2 separate regions of the Homo sapiens genome follow, and region 1 is linked to region 2. Evidence: fine-mapped QTL for protein levels in blood plasma. Region 2 holds a variant in brackets. A gene starts in the other region. All regions are shown on their reverse strands.

Region 1 (2,883 bases), not on the chromosome of region 2:
GAGTCTCTGGCCCTACCCTGTCCTCCTGGAGGCCCCTCTCCCCTCAGGGCCCCTCTCCGTGTACTCAGGATAGGACCTGAGGCAGCGAGGGCTGAGCCACACGGGCTTGGGGTGCAGTCGGGCTCACATGTGGTGGTAATCCACGTCTCCCCAGGGCCCTCCAAGAGCACAGAGCAGGGTCCGGAGGCCTCTAGGAGCCTCCCTTCCACTTCATCACCCAGCCCCACTTCTGCAGGAGCTCAGGTGACGGGCCCAGAATTTCCCCAGGGGACCCTGGCCACCTAGGACAGTGGGAGGCAGGGCACGGCCAGCCGCAAGCAGCAGCTCAGCCGTCCAGGTCAGGAGGGCCGGAGGGAGGGAGCTCAGGTGGCCACGCCCACTTGACAGGTGAGAACCACCAAGGCCCAGAGAGCTCTCCGGGCAGTCAGGGCCCCGCCAGGGGAGGGGCAGCCCCACGCCACAGCGGAATCCCCAGGTCCTCACCGGTATCTCCAGGGTGAGATGGAGCGCTGGTGGGTGTCTGCCTCCAACACCTCCTCCGGCCGCAGCACCGGGCACTGGGTCGTAGCTGAGGGCCTCTCGTGCCTCCCCCTGTGGCTTGCTGCCTCCAGGCTGGACACCAGGGCTACAGGCAAAGCCTGCCCCCACTTGGCACCTCGAGCCAGCAGGTGTGGGGGGGCCTGGCCGAGGGGCAGTTCCTCAGCCGAGTAGCAGTGTGGGGTACCGTGACTGTGGGGGTGCCCCCTGAGGGAGGGGTCATGGTGGGCCAGGCATGTGTGCAGCCAGGTCAGAAACAGGAGGCCGGGGAGGAGCTGGTGAAACAGGCAGGTGGGTGGTTAGGAGGTGCCCAGGGCAGGGGGCACCTCACTTCCACCTCAGCTTTCCTTGTTCCCAGCGGAAAGATGGAGTACAGCCCTCCCTCTATAGATGGGGAAACTGAAGCCCAGAGAGGCTAGCCCTTCAGCCCAAGACACCCAGCATGCCAGCGCTCCGAGGATCTGCAGCTGCCTCCCCTACCCCCAGACTGAGGGGTTTCCCAGACCCCATCCCAACACCCTCCTCCCAGGCTCAGAGAACCCCAGCCCTTCCATGCCAGGCTGCACATCCAAGCAGCATCCATCCGAGCGGCATGTGGAGAGGCTCACCGTCATGGTGGCGGCAGCGGGGCAGGCTGGGCTTGGAGCGGCCTGCACACCTGGCGGCAATCCCACAGGTGCACCTGGCCATGCACCTGGCAGCAGCCGCTCTTATACCTGAGGCCACACCTGGGGGAAATTCCGGCACCACTTCCTCCTCGGGAAGTGCCCAGCTGGGGCGCTTCTTCCTTCTCTGGTCCCCGCAGCCCCCGCCTGCTGTGCATCAGGACACAGACATGCAAGGAGGCCCCGGGAGGCGCTGTCCTGTTACCCCCCTCCCCCGAGAGAGACTCCGCCCAACCTGAGCACCTACACAGGGTGCTGCCTTGTCTGACATTCTCAAACTTTTTTTTTTTTTTTGAGACAGGGTCTTGCTGTCACCCGAGCTGGAGGGAAATGGTGCTGTCCCAGCTCACTGCAACCTCCACATCCCAGGTTCAAGCGATTCTCCTGCCTCAGGCTTCCGAGTAGCTGGGATTACAGGCACCCCCCACCATGCCTGGCTAATTTTTGTATTTTTAGTACAGACAGGGTTTTGCCATATCGGCCAGGCTGGTCTGAGGCTCCTGACCTCAAGTGATCTGCTCGCCTTGGCCTCCCAAAGTGCTGGGATTACAGGAGTGAGCCACTGCGCCCAGCCTTGAACCTCCTATAAGAGGGTTTCTGCTTGCGTATCCGTCAGCACCTTGCTGATTCAACTTGTAGGTTTTCATCTGGACCTGATGGTGGCGGGGCGCTTTTGCACCCTATACAGTTCTTCTCCGTCTGCTGCTGGTGGGTGCCAAGGGTGGTTCAGTGTTTTAGCTGAGATGGTCAAGATCAGGTGAGGCTCACGTGCCCCCTTCACCCAGGTGGGAGAGGTCCCGGAGATGGGGGAGGCAGGCACGTCTTCAGGTCTCTGTTGGGTTTCTGTGTTGTTTTTTTTTTTGTTGTTTTTTTGAGGCGGAGTCTGACTCTGTCGCCCAGGCGGGGAGTACAGTGGTGCGATCTCGGCTCACTACAAGCTCAGCTTCCTGGGTTCACGCCATTCTCCTGCCTCAGCCTGCCGGGTAGCTGGGACTACAGGCGCCCGCCACCACACCTGGCTAATTTTTTTGTATTTTTAGTAGAGACGGGGTTTCACCATGTTAGCCAGGATGGTCTCGATCTCCTGACCTCGTGATCTGCCCACCTCGGCCTCGCAAAGTGCTGGGATCACAGGCATGAGTCACTGCACCCGGCCTGGGCTTCTGTGGTTTTATTGAGAAAAAAGTTCAAGCTAAAAAGTCTGAGTTGGAGGTGTGAGGAGTGAGGTGTGAGGTGTGAATGAGGCATGAGGCGTGAGGCGTGAGGTGTGAGGTGTGACCAGCACACACAGGAAGCTTTATGTAAGCGGGGCCGGGAGCTGCCTTTGGCCTCCTTGATCGGTGAGGCTGGCTGGGGGTGGGGGCGCTGGAGGTGCCTTTGTTTCCCCGGAAAGGGACAGCTGCAGCCAGAACTTGGGAAGGTTTGAATGCCGGGGGTTTGACGTCATCCTGAGGAGGGTTGTCCTGGAGTCCCCAGGGCCCCTGGCCACATCAGAGGTGGGGGAATCTGTCCGCCCTGGTCCCCTCAGCTTCGGGGTGAGGGCGGGAGGGAGGGTGCTTGTGTGCCCCCAGCCTTTCCTCCCCTGCCGCGGTGCAGATGTGTTCCACGGAGGTGTCCTCTAAGCTGAAAACCTCAGTCTCTCTGAACACAAAAGCTCCCAAGTCGGGTGGGGCTGAGGCAG
Region 2 (2,821 bases):
TTAGCTTGGTTACAGTTGGGTGAGGATGAAATGGGGCAGGGGGTCCCAGCAGAGGTCACTTATTGACTCACCAGTCTGGTGGGGGCATTCAACATGGCTGCTGTTTCCAAAAGAGAACTGAGAAATACAGGAATGGCAGATTAGCAAGCTCCAGGCAATACCCACTACACCACATCTTTTCTTACCCATGGTTGTACCTTGAAGCAGAGCTGGGGGTGCAGGTCCACCTTCTCCAAAACATACCACTGTGGGAGGAGAGGAGAGTTCATCAGGGAGAAAATTCCTGGGCCCCAGCCCTGCCCACCCTGGTCCTGGGGGAACCTGTCCTCACCCCATCTGACTCTCGAGCTGTGGCATTCGGGAGGTCTTTGCAAAGGGTATGCCAGTCGTGCCTCTGGCAGAGGGCAGCTTCCAGCTTCAGTGGGCAG[C/T]GGAGTGTCAGGGCCATGACCATCTGAGTGTGCTGGCTGTAGTCAGTGAAGTGCACTGACTTCCAGAAGTCCGAGCCATCTGGGCAGGTGGCAGGGTCAGTGGGTGAGGGTCAGCCCTGCTTCAGCCCCACCTTGCCACCCACATCCTGGGGGCAGCTGGAGATAATGTTTGTAAAAGTAACCAGCACTATTCCTGGCCAGAACAGGTACTAAATCAATGAGCATCCCTTTCATTATCTTTCTTTTCCTTTTCTTTTTTGAGATAGAATCTCACTCTGTCGCCCAGTCTGGAGTGCAGTGGTGCAATCTCAGCTCACTGCAACCTCTGTGTCCTGGGTTCAAGCGATTCTCATGCCTCAGTAGCTGGGATTACAGGTGTGTGCCACCAAGCCCAGCTAATTTTTGTATTTTTAGTAGAGATGGGTTTTCACCATATTGGCCAGGCTGGTCTCCTGACCTCGTGGACTCCTGACCTTGTGACCCACCCACCTTGGCCTCCCAAAGTGCTGGGATTACAAGTGTGAGCCACCATGCCCAGCCCCCTTTCATTACCTTTCTGTTTTTTGTTTTTTTTTTTGAGACGGAGTTGCACTCTGTCACCCAGGCTGGAGTGCAGTGGTGTGATTTCGGCTCACTGCAACCTCTGCCTCCCGAGCTCAAGTGATTCTCCTGTCTTGATCCCCTGAGTAGCTGGGACTACAGGCGCGCATCACCATGCCCGGCTAACTTTTTGTATTTTTAGTACAGACAGGGTTTCACCATGTTGGCCAGGCTGGTTTCAAACTCCTGACCTCAGGTGATCTGCCTACTTCAGCCTCCCAAAGTGCTGGAATTACAGGCGTGAGCCATTGCGCCCAACCTCATTATCTTTCTATCCAGGGGTCTCTCTCCTCTCCTTCCCAGGCCTCCATTCTGGCCAGGTCCTTGCTTCTCCCCAAACTCGAAATCTGCTTAGGGTCCTCTCAGAACCAGGAATGTCTTTCCCTCCTATCTCTCCTTTCTAAGTCTTGCCCTTTTTCTGACCCCAGCTCAGGTGCCACTTCCTCTAAGAGGCCTTCTCTGCTTATAATGGCCCTTCTTGGGCTTCTCCCTTTCCCAATTTCTTGCCCTACAGCCTAGTCCTTAACCATAACCCTGCCCTGTAAGTTCTGTAGGCTGCTTTATGTGAGTCACTTTTGTCTGAGTGTCCTGCCTCTCCTTGAGAACAACAACATGCATACAGCACTTCAGACATCACCAGCCACTTTCATATGTAATATTTAACTCAGGCTTCACAAACACTTTGAAGGCAGAGCAGGTATTGAGATTTTACAGATGAGGAAAGTGAGGCTCAGAGAAGAACAATTGACAGAGCTGTGATGGGAACTGGGTCTTCTGGCCCATCCTCTTAGGACACCATCTCCTAGGCCTCATATTTCTAAACTTCTCACAGTACTGCGGTGCTCAGCGATCTCTGATCTATTGGCAAGCGGACTGGTAGACTTGGCAGCCCTTTTCCCCCCACTGACTCCAGGGAAAGTACCTGCATGCCTTCTGGGGACTTCCCCCAGCACATGTGTGAAGTGCGGGGTGTGTGTGTGTGTGTGTGTACATGTGTGTGTAGGAGACAGAAAGAGAAAGGGGATGTGTGTGCACAAGGGTGCGTGTCAACAGCACTCACAGGCTTCTGGCCAGCTCTGGAAGGGACATTTTTTGCGCCTCACAGTGTCCTCTTGCAGGTAGGATGCCTGGAGAGACGGGAGCAGGTGGGGAGGGTCAGAGGAATGGCTTTTCCAATCTCACTCAGACCTAAAACTCATTCTGGCTTTACCTTACTGTGACGCAAGCTGCCTGAGCTGGCCAGGCACTGACCGAGCAGGAGGGGGCAATGTGGGGTGGGGGCAAGGGTGGAGAGGAACTCCAGAGCATAGGAGAGGGATAAGCAAGTGAGGGGCTAACTCCTCTTCCTCCTAAAGAGAACTATCCCCAGAAAGAAGGAAATCCTGAGGTCGCATTCCTCAGCTTTGGTCTTCTCTGGCCTCCACTCTCAGCCATCCCCAAGGCACCCAGTGCTCTGTGTTGGCTCCTGACTCTGGAATGCCCACATGCCCACCTGCTGTCCACCCTGGCAATTGCTCGTGGCTCTAGGTCTCTGCCATCATCCTCCCTTAGGTCTTCCAGGTGACAATTTCCCTTGCCTTTTCTGTCTAGTCCAAAGAAAACTTTCTGCTATGTTCCTTAGACTTGTAAAGAGAAAAGGAGGACTGCCACAGAGGCCTAGAGGGGACAAGACTTTTGGGGGCATATGGATCCTGCAGTGGCCATGCACACACTCCTTCCTCGACTCCTCAGAACACACAGCAATGACAGCTGCCTATTCTGGCTCTGTGGGCTGAGGCCAGGTCTGGGCCAGG

Which allele goes with the higher level. Alleles are on the strand shown, and positions count from the first base shown. The strength of an association depends on the size of the effect and on how common the allele is.
As copies of T replace C in region 2, the plasma level of the protein whose gene starts at base 1,221 in region 1 goes up (weak association).

The links. PIP is the posterior inclusion probability: the model's chance that the variant is causal. Protein levels are from antibody-based Olink assays in UK Biobank. Linkage for the fine-mapping came from a reference panel and not from the study's own genotypes, which makes the PIPs less certain.
Region 1: it holds the start of IL17C, and the variant in region 2 is fine-mapped to the plasma level of the IL17C protein (UK Biobank, PIP 0.96).

What each region holds. Positions count from the first base shown.
Region 1 is chr16:88,636,910-88,639,792 of GRCh38, reverse strand. It overlaps IL17C (interleukin 17C), which reads right to left and starts at 1,221. Exons shown (of 3, transcript NM_013278.4): 1 at 1,146-1,221; 2 at 484-812. The coding sequence starts at 1,151. It overlaps LOC124903755 (a long non-coding RNA gene), which reads right to left. Exons shown (of 2, transcript XR_007065181.1): 2 at 2,359-2,883.
Region 2 is chr3:9,908,551-9,911,371 of GRCh38, reverse strand. IL17RE (interleukin 17 receptor E) reads right to left here. Exons shown (of 16, transcript NM_153480.2): 8 at 2,089-2,155; 9 at 332-507; 10 at 198-245; 11 at 72-117. Among named protein-coding and RNA genes, the nearest start is that of IL17RE, 7.1 kb to the right of the region's middle. The variant C/T (reference allele first, on the strand shown) is at 429.